Linked DNA regions of Homo sapiens. The protein of the gene in region 2 interacts with the protein of the main gene of each other region in a pairwise test. Each region holds a gene or a part of one and is shown on either strand. Other genes may lie near its edges.

Region 1 (3,653 bases), on a different chromosome or scaffold from region 2:
CAGCATGTCCAGAGTTTGAATGCTGTATTAGGACGTTTTACGTTGCTATGAAGGAATACCTGAGGTTGGGTGACTTATTTAAAAAAAGAGATTTATTTGGCCCAGGGTTCTGCAGGCCGTATAGGAAGCATGGGGCTGGCATCTGCTCCTGGTGAGGGCCTCAGGAAGTTTACAGTCACGGTAGGTGAAGGGGGAGGAGGCACATCACATGATGAGAGCAGGAGCAATTGAGGGTGGGAAGTGCCACACTTTTAAACAGCCAGATCTCAGGTGAGTGACAACTAAACTCACTACCATGAGGAGAGCACCAAGCCATTCATGAGGGATCTGCTCCCATGACCCAAACACCTCCCACTAGGCCCACCTCCAACATTGGAGGTCACGTTTCTTTTTTATTTTTTTGAGACGGGCTTTCACTCTCTTGCCCAGGCAGTAGCATGTTCATGACTCACTGCAGCTTCAACCCCTCAGGCTCAAGTGATCCTCCTGCCTCAGCTTCCTGAGTAGCTGGGCCCACAGTCACACACCACCATGCTTTGCTAACTTTTAAATTTTTTGTAGAGACGAGATCTCACTGTGTTGCCCAAGCTGGTCTCAAACTGGTGGGCTCAGGTGATCCTCCAGCCTCACCCTCCCAAAGTGTTGGGATTACAGGCATGAGCTACCATGCCCAGCCAAGGAAATTACATTGCAACATGAGATTTGGAGGGGACAAAACATCCAAACCACATTAAATAGCTTTGGATGATTTGCTATTAATGTCTTCTGTCACCTTAAAAAGAAATTATAAGTATTGGCCAGGCGAAATGGACTCAAGTAAGCCTTTCCAATCTACATGAAATAATCAGAACATAGGGCCGAGTGCAGTGGTTCATGCCTGTAATCCCAGCACTTTGGGAGGCCGAGGCAGGTGGATCATCTGAGGTCAGGAGTTCAAGACCATCCTGGCAAACATGGTGAAACCTTGTCTCTACTAAAAATACAAAAATTAGCTAGGCATGGTGGTGTGCACCTGTAGTCCCAGCTGTCAGGAGGTAGAGGCAGGAAAATTGCTTGAAGCTGGGATGCAGAGGTTGCAGTGAGCCAAGATCATGCCACTGCACTCCAGCCTGGGTGACAGACTGAGACTCCATCTCAAAAAAAAAAAATTACAAGTATTATTCTGTATATATTGCTAGACCTTTAATTAAGTGAGCTTTGACATGACAAGTTTTCTATCTAAGACCACGTTAACATAGGGACATAAAAAAATGTACCCAGAATTGGCCTGGGCACGGTGGCTTGCTTGAACACAGGAGGTGGAAGTTGCAGTAAACCAAGGTGGTGCCACTGCACTCCAACCTGGGCACCAGAACTATTAAGTTTTTTTCTGAGTATGTGCTACCTTCTTTACTTTTGGTTGTGGAACCACACATTGGAACTCAAACTCTTGAATTTTACTCCTAACCTGTAACAATCTGGTGCTTTGTAATCAAATTCCCATTTGGAAAATGGAATTGTCTTTCCATTTGGGAGACTTCTGTTTTCCCTCAAACTAATTTTATTTTATTTTATGTTTTTTTTTTTAAATTTATTTATTTTTTATTGATAATTCTCGGGTGTTTCTCACAGAGGGGGATTTGGCAGGGTCATAGGACAATAGTGGAGGGAAGGTCAGCAGATAAACAAGTGAACAAAGGTCTCTGGTTTTCCTAGGCAGAGGACCCTGCGGCCTTCCGCGGTGTTTGTGTCCCTGGGAACTTGCGATTAGGGAGTGGTGATGACTCTTAAGGAGCATGCTGCCTTCAAGCATCTGTTTAACAAAGCACATCTTGCACCGCCCTTAATCCATTTAACCCTGAGTGGACACAGCACTTGTTTCAGAGAGCACAGGGTTGGGGGTAAGGTCACAGATCAACAGGATCCCACGGCAGAAGAAGTTTTCTTAGTACAGAACAAAATGAAAAGTCTCCCATGTCTACTTCTTTCTACACAGACACGGCAACCATTCGATTTCTCAATCTTTTCCCCACCTTTCCCGCCCTTCTATTCCACAAAGCCGCCATTGTCATCCTGGCCCGTTCTCAATGAGCTGTTGGGCACACCTCCCAGACGGGGTGGTGGCCGGGCAGAGGGGCTCCTCACTTCCCAGTAGGGGCAGCTGGGCAGAGGCGCCCCTCACCTCCTGGACGGGGCGGCTGGCCGGGCGGGGGGCTGACCCCCCCACCTCCCTCCCGGACAGGGCGGCTGGCCTGGCAGGGGGCTGACCCCCCCACCTCCCTCCCGGATGGGGGTGCTGGCCTGGCGGGGGGCTGACCCCCCCCACCTCCCTCCCGGACTGGGTGGCTGCCAGGCGGAGACGCTCCTCACTTCCCAGACTGGGTGGCTGTCGGGCGGAGAGGCTCCTCACTTCTCAGACGGGGCGGCTGCCGGGCGGAGGGGCTCCTCACTTCTCAGACGGGGCGGTTGCCGGGCAGAGGGTCTCCTCACTTCTCAGACGGGGCGGCCGGGCAGAGATGCTCCTCACCTCCCAGACGGGGTCGCAGCCGGGCAGAGGTGCTCCTCACATCCCAGACGGGGTGGCGGGGCAGAGGCGCTCCCCACATCTCAGACGATGGGCGGCTGGGCAGAGACGCTCCTCACTTCCTAGATGGGATGGCGGCGAGGAAGAGGTGCTCCTCACTTCCTAGGTGGGATGGCGGCCGGGCGGAGACGCTCCTCACTTTCCAGACTGGGCAGCCAGGCAGAGGGGCTCCTCACATCCCAGACGATGGGCGGCCAGGCAGAGACGCTCCTCACTTCCCAGACGGGGTGGCAGCTGGGCAGAGGCTGCAATCTTGGCACTTTGGGAGGCCAAGGCAGGCGGCTGGGAGGTGGAGGTTGTAGCGAGCCGAGATCACGCCACTGCACTCCAGCCTGGGCACCATTGAGCACTGAGTGAACCAGACTCCGTCTGCAATCCCGGCACCTCGGGAGGCCGAGGCTGGCGGATCACTTGCGGTTAGGGGCTGGAGACCGGCCTGGCCAACACAGCGAAACCCCGTCTCCACCAAAACCAGTCAGGCGTGGCGGCCCGAGCCTGCAATCGCAGGCACTCGGCAGGCTGAGTCAGGAGAATCAGGCAGGGAGGTTGCAGTGAGCCGAGATGGCAGCAGTACAGTCCAGCTTCGGCTCAGCATGAGAGGGAGACCGTGGAAAGAGAGGGAGAGGGAGACCGTGGGGAGAGGGAGAGGGAGAGCTCCTAATTTTGTATTTGTAGTAGAGACGGGGTTTCTTCATGTTGCTCAGGCTGTGTCTTGAACTCCCGATCTCAGGTGATCTCAAACTAATTTTATAACCTGTCAATCTGTTAACTAACATTAACTTTGTAAATTTTATGCAAAATATTGTCTAGGTAATATAGAGAATAAAGGAAGTAGATAGGTGCTCTCGCTCCCTCCATAGCAGTAAACTCTATGTGATGACCACTAATTAATAACCTGTATTCCCCTGGTGATCCTGGGAACGAAAGTGATTTCATAGTGAGGACTTTTTTTTTTTAATTAAATTTAGGCTTGAGGGATGGTGTTTGTTCTTTGTTCATGTAAGACAGTGTCTTGCTTTGTCACCCGGGCTGGAGTACATGATTGAGGCTAACTGCAGTCTCGACATCCTGGGCTCAAGCAATTCTCCCA
Region 2 (3,309 bases):
AGACAGACCCTGATCTCCACCCCCAACCCGGATCCTGGGCCCTTCTGGGTCACCAGGCAGAGGCTGACATTCCATAAGCCCTATACCATCGTCACTTTTAGTGGCAGCTCATACAGAGCTGCAAAGTTGAAGCCTTCCACCTCCATCCTCAGCTTTAAGAACAGAGAAGACAAAAACTTAGCGAGGCAGCACCCCTGGCTCAAACCCAACCCAACTTCACCCTGTTCACATCTGGCAGCTTCAAAATGGGCCCTGCCCCTCAGGCTTCACCCTTCCCATCCTAGTGGGCAGTATATTCACACCCCCACCCCAAGCATTATCCCTCAGTTCCCACGGCTCCTAATAATCCCATCCCAGCCAAGCCCCGCCCCTAAGCCTCCCGTTGGCTCTGCCCCACCCAAACTACTAGCCGTGCTCCCAGGACCGGGCCGCCCCCTACCCTCTGGCCAAGCTGGCAGGAGCTGCCGAAGTCCACAATCTTGATGGCGCTGCGCTTGGGGTTGCACAGCAAGATGTTTTCGGGCTTGAGGTCGCAGTGAATGATGCTGAGCTCAGGCGTGGCCAGAAAGAGCAGTGCCGTGCAGAGCTGCTGCGCCAGCTTCCGGGTCAGGTTCAGCGAGACGCCGCGGAAGTGGGTGTTGCGCAGGAGGTCGTACAGGTTGTAGGACAGCAGCTCAAATACCAGGCACAGGTGGTTCCGGAACATGAAGTGCCGCTTCAGGTGTACTGCGGGGGAGGGGAGGAAATGGGCCAGAGAAGAAACGGCTCAGAGAGGGCAGGTGGTGGCCTGGGGTCATACAACGCTCTTTGATTACTAGCCACATTGTGCTGTCCCCACGGGTACCATCTGCTAGTCAAAATCTTTTTATCTAACAACTAGATTCACACAGGAAGTTAATGCTCTTTCCAAGTCTCTGTCAAACCCTCCAATTAAACCAAAGAGAAAGTTTCATTAGTTACTACTAGCTCTAACACATTCTACACTTCCTCATTTAATTTCATAACACTGCTTTCATCTCCCTTGTATTCATTTTTGTGGCAAAGGACACTGGTTTTCCGTTTACTTTAAGGATATACGTTTTCCTTTCAAACGAAACCATTTTAAAATCCACTTGCTGTTTATGATTATGTTGTGATGTTTATGTCCATGAGCAGGAATCAGTTTAAGGGAGGAGAAAGACTGGCACAGATGTTAAGAGTAACAGCTCTGGAGTCCACGACCTCATCAAATTATAGCTCAATTAGTACAAACTGCCACCTCATGCAAGTGACAGCACTTGAATGCCTGAGTTTCTTTTTTCCTTTCTTCGTTTTTTTTTGTTGTTGTTGTAACTGTTGTTGTTGTTATTAGGTTTGGTTTTTTGTTTGTTTTGGGTTTTTTTTTTTTTGAGATGGAGTCTCGCTCTGTCATCAGGCTGGAGTGCAGTGGCGTGGTCCCAGCTCACTGTAACCTCCGCCTCCCAGGTTCAAGCGATTCTCCTGCCTCAGCCTCCTGAGTAGCTGGGACTACAGGCGCGCACCACCACATCAAGCTAATTTTTTCACATTTTTAGTAGAGACGGGGTTTCACCATGTTGGCCAGGATGGTCTCGATCTCTTGATATCATGATCCGCCCACCTCGGCCTCCAAAAGTGCTGGGATTACAGGCGTGAGCCACTGTGCCCAGCCCGTTTTGTTTGTTTTATTGAAGAAGAAACTAGGATGGAAGCCCAGGTTTCTTATCTTCAAGATGTTGTTAATAATGCCCTTCCCCTTATGGGCTGTGGTGAGTTAACTTCCAAGTGCTTCCAAGAGAGCCTGGCCCTTGGTGAGCACTCAGTAACCTCTGACCATTACCAAGAAAATAGGACAAAAATCATAAAAGCAGCAGGAGAATCACTGATGTCAGAGAAGCACAGACCAAACCCTGCTCTGAAGACATCAGCCTCCTCCTGAGAGTAGGGCGGGGGTGTGACCCATCCCTACTGGCTCCAGCTCCCGCTATCCCAGGTGCCCACAGCCCTGCCAGTCCCAGGCCTCACCTATATAGTACTTCATCTCCGTGTCATGCTGGTTCATCAGCTCCAGCAGCCGCAGCTCAATCTGGGCCTGGTTCAGGAAAGCCTTTTTGTTCTTGATGATCTTGATGGCCACAAGCTCCTGGGTCTGATGATCATAGGCTTTCACCACCTGTTGGGGCAGGGCATGTCACGAAGAAAGGGGTGGGAGCAGGGCAGAGCCAGGCACCATTCTTCTCCCTCCAGGCAAGGAGACCCACCAAGAACACTATGCATACTTCGCAGCTGAGTGCGCACCATTAGTCAGGCGCTGGTGTAAACACTGGATGTGAAATAACATAACGACCTTATGTTGAGTCTTGTTATTTAAACTGTTTTACAGAAAAGGCGACTGAGGCACAGGGAAACTAAGTGGGCTAGGGTGAGTGGCCCAGCATGGGACTTGAAGCCACTGAACCACTGGGTGTGTGATCAATGTTAGTGGGGCCTTGGATCAGGGTGGTGGGGGGTGTCCCACACCTGGCCAAAGGAGCCTTTGCCAATGAGCGAGTCAATTTCGTAGCGCTCCAGCCAGCGCTCGCCACTGCGCACGATGTAGTCATGGTTGTCGTCATCATAACCATGGTTCAGGACCTTCTTCTCCTTCTTGTTGCTCGAATCCTGGGGTGGCGCCTGCTGGGCCCGCCGCTTCTTCTTCGCATAGTATACCTGCCCAGCCAGCCAGCCAGGAGATGGGGACTGGTGAGTGACTCATGCCAGCAGACAAGACCCTCGGCACCCAGCCCAGGATCCCCCAGCCCCTGCCCACCTCATTGATGTGCTTGTAGGTCTTGATGAGGTCCACAGAGAGCTTACGCAGCGGGGCTGAGGTTGCATCCCGGAAGGCCAGGGGCAGCCTCCGAGGCAGTAGCCGCACATCAGGCAATACCTGCAGGGCAGGGTGAGGGGTGGGCACTGAGGACGTGCCTTCACCTCCGACCTCAAGAGGAAGAACTGTAAGGGCTGCTGGCACATCATGTATTTGGTTGCTGTCTGTATTTGTTCCACCTGTCTAGGAAAGAAACTCCCCCAGGGCTGAGACTTTCTCTTGTTCTTACTATACCTCCAGTGCCTACAGCAGGGCCTGGCACACAATGGATGCTCTTAGAGATCTGTGGTGTGAATGAGTGAACTCTGACCTTTCACCCCTCACCTTTACTCCTTTCTGAACCTCAGAGGGAGAGATCATATGGAAAACCTGGGCTCTGTTCCTCCCCATTCTTCACTTTGAAGCCAGCCATTTTGGGTACCCTCTGAAGTACCTCTATCTCA
Region 3 (3,141 bases), on a different chromosome or scaffold from region 2:
ACCCACAGATGGCACTCAGCCTCCCCTTGCTTCTGTCTTCTCTCTCCTGTACCCATCCATCTCCTTTCTCCCCTAGCTGTGACTTATGCCAGCCACCTCTCCATGCCCTCTCTTACCTGCTGAACTCTGGGGGTTGATGGCATGGGTGTGAACCGGGTTTTAGGTTGAACGGTGAGACGCCGCAACACTGAATATGAGGTCTGGGGAGAGATGTGGGTGGCTGAGCAGGGACAAAACCCAGACATAGCAAGGATCTCCGGCCAGACTGTTCTGCCCCTGCCCAGCCCCCAGTTGTTGACACAAACCAGAGTTGGAGGGCCTGGGGAGGGTACACGCTGAGCCCGTCCAAAGGGTGATGGACATGGCACCACATGGCCAGGCAAGGGCTGGGCCACAGGGGCAGGGGAGGGCATCAGGTGGGAGTCATGGCTGTCCTGTGAAGAAGAAAAAGGTGGAAGAGTGATCCCCGCCCCCTTTGTCTTCCTATTTTTTTTTTTGATACGGAGTCTCGCTCTGTCACCCAGGATGGAGTCCAGTGGCGCGATCTTGGCTCACTGCAAGCTCCGCATCCCGGGTTCACACCATTCTCCTGCCTCAGCCTCCCGAGTAGCTGGGACTACAGGTGCCCGCCACCATGCCCGGCTAATTTTTTGTATATTTAGTAGAGATGGGGTTTCACCATGTTAGCCAGGATGGTCTCGATCTCCTGACCTCGTGATCTGCCCGCCTCGGCCTCCCAAAGTGCTGGGATTACAGGAGTAAGCCACCACGCCTGGCTGTCTTCCTATATCGTGTTCTCACTACAGCAGCCAGTGTGATTCTTTTAAGACCTAAGTCAAGCCGGGCATGGTGGCTCAGGCCTGTAATCCCAGCACTTCGGGAAGCCGAGGAGGGTGGAGCACCTGAGGTCAGGAGTTTGAGACCAGCTTGACCAACATGGAGAAATCCTGTCTCTACTAAAAATACAAAATTAGCCAGGCGTGGTGGTGCATGCCTGTATTCCCAGCTACTCGGAGGCTGAGGCAGGAGAATCACTTGAACCCAGGAGGCAGAGGTTGCAATGAGCGGAGATCGTGCCATTGCACTCCAGCCTGGGCAACAAGAGTGAAACTCCATCTCAAAAAAAAAAAAAAAAAAAAAAAAAAAGACCTAAGTCAAATCATGTCACTTTCTTGATCAACCCCTCTCCCCATGGCTTTCCACTCATTCCAAGACAAGCCAAAGACTTACACTGGTGTACAATTCCTTACCCAATCTGATCGTGTTATCGCTAAAACCCTATCTCCTACTGTTCTTCTTACTCTGCTTCAATCTCACTGGCCTCTCCTTTTTGCTGATCCTCAAACACACCAGGCACATTCCCTCCCCAGGGCCTTTACCTCTTCAGTTCTCTTGGCCTGGAATGTTCCTTCCCCCAGATATCAACATATCTCACTCCTCCTCCAACCCCTGGTCTTCACTTAAACATCATCTTCTCAGTAAGAGTTCCCTGACAAATCTATTTTAAATTGCAATACCAACTCCCCTGCTCCCAATTCTCCTTTAGTGCCTTATTATTATTATTATTATTATTTTAGAGAGAACTTACCATCATCTGAGACACTATTTATTTTATACCTGTGTTTATTTCTTGTCTCCCCCTTCTAGAATATGAACTTGTTTACTGCTATATGTCCAGAGCCTAGAACAGAGCCTGGCACTCAGTAGGCTGGTGCTACTCAGTAAATATTTGTGGAGCCAAGGGATGAATGCTTTTGGCTGACAAGTGTCAGATCTGTCTCACCCTTAGCACTGATCTGATGGTGATACAAATATGACCTCTCACCCTAGGCCCCAGACATCTGATAAAGAGAGGTCAGTCTCACATTGGAGAGGGACTGGGTGCATCTGGGGTAAACCTACCCAGTAACATCCTGAGGCCCAGGACTTCCTGGCTCTACCTACAATTCTCAGTGTTGGCTGCTGCAGCAAAATTCTTCCAAGCAACTCCTGCACCTCCCACCCACCATCCCAGGAGAGTCGCATCTCACCCTGGTATGTGACATTTCTCGGTTTTCTCTTAATGGTACTCGCTGGGCCAGACCAAGAGAGGCCACACCTCCTTCATCTGAGTGAGTGACAACCTCGCGTTCTCCTTTAGGAAGAGAGAAAGCTAGGAAGAAACAGGACATTTGTTGTAGACTCTAGAACACCCACCAAAGTTTGGCACAGTGTTCTGCAACTTCTGAAGAGGGTATATTAGTTTAATAGGCCCCATTGCACTATTAGGGACAGGAACCCATCCAGCAGCCCCTCAACACCCAACACTATCTCAGTAAACACTTATTAATCTGAACGTCTGAGTAGGCTGGGGATGTGGTGATGGCACTTAGGGGCTGGGGATAAACAGTGAGTGGAAGATAAATCTTGCAGGAAGTGGCAGAGAGAGGGCCGAAATGGAGACCATCTCCTTAGACAAAAGTGCAACTGTGCCAATCGCTGGCCTATCTAGAAGGTCTCTTCTCCTTCTCCTTCTGACCTAGCCTCCCGGCCTCCCACTTCCTCATGCTCCCTCCCAGCCTGCTGAGTTTTCTCTGGTCTTGTTCCCTGCTTCAGGCAGCCCAACTGCCCCTGTTCTCTCCCCACGCCAGAAACACTTACCAGGCTGGACTGGGGTCTCCAGGAGCAATCCTGAGGCCTGGCTCACTGAAGTCCTGATGACAATAAGGACATTAGCCAGCAGTCACTGAATACCAAGTATGAGCTGGACATGTGCTAAGTGCTTTACAAACATCATCTCATTTCATTCTCATGACAACTAATGATGGTACAAATGTTATTCTCACTTGACAAAGAAACCAAAGCTCAGAGAGGTGAAGGCAAGCTTGCACAAATAGTAAGTGTTAAGAGTTAGGATATAAACCCAAATCCCACTTATTGCCACAGTCTATACTCTAGCCACTAAACAAAAGAGATAGCACATTTCTGTCCTCCCTGTCCCCCCATGACTTGAGTAAACTGATGTCACACTGAGGCCTGGCTGTGAAAGCCTGAACCCTATCCCAAGGGCTCATCCCGGGTAATCACAGGTTTCTTGCTTCCCCTCCTGAGTTGGTGGGGAGTCCTAAAGCTCCTGGAAGGCCCCAACTCTGGGGGACTCCT

Evidence for each region.
Region 1: the proteins of DYRK1B (region 2) and RBL1 interact in binary tests that used the Homo sapiens proteins (3 or more experiments, as listed by UniProt).
Region 3: the proteins of DYRK1B (region 2) and TROAP interact in binary tests that used the Homo sapiens proteins (3 or more experiments, as listed by UniProt).

The regions. Positions count from the first base shown.
Region 1 is NC_000020.11:37,068,397-37,072,049, reverse strand, and holds part of RBL1 (retinoblastoma-like protein 1), read left to right. Parts: intron 1-3,653. UniProt on the Homo sapiens protein: Key regulator of entry into cell division. Directly involved in heterochromatin formation by maintaining overall chromatin structure and, in particular, that of constitutive heterochromatin by stabilizing histone methylation.
Region 2 is NC_000019.10:39,827,858-39,831,166, forward strand, and holds part of DYRK1B (dual specificity tyrosine-phosphorylation-regulated kinase 1B), read right to left. Parts: intron 2,927-3,309; coding exon 2,807-2,926; intron 2,707-2,806; coding exon 2,518-2,706; intron 2,171-2,517; coding exon 2,023-2,170; intron 1,946-2,022; exon of another isoform or gene 1,859-1,945; intron 727-1,858; coding exon 440-726; intron 1-439.
Region 3 is NC_000012.12:49,326,220-49,329,360, reverse strand, and holds part of TROAP (tastin), read right to left. Parts: intron 2,694-3,141; coding exon 2,641-2,693; intron 2,153-2,640; coding exon 2,031-2,152; intron 435-2,030; coding exon 306-434; intron 201-305; coding exon 117-200; intron 1-116. UniProt on the Homo sapiens protein: Could be involved with bystin and trophinin in a cell adhesion molecule complex that mediates an initial attachment of the blastocyst to uterine epithelial cells at the time of the embryo implantation.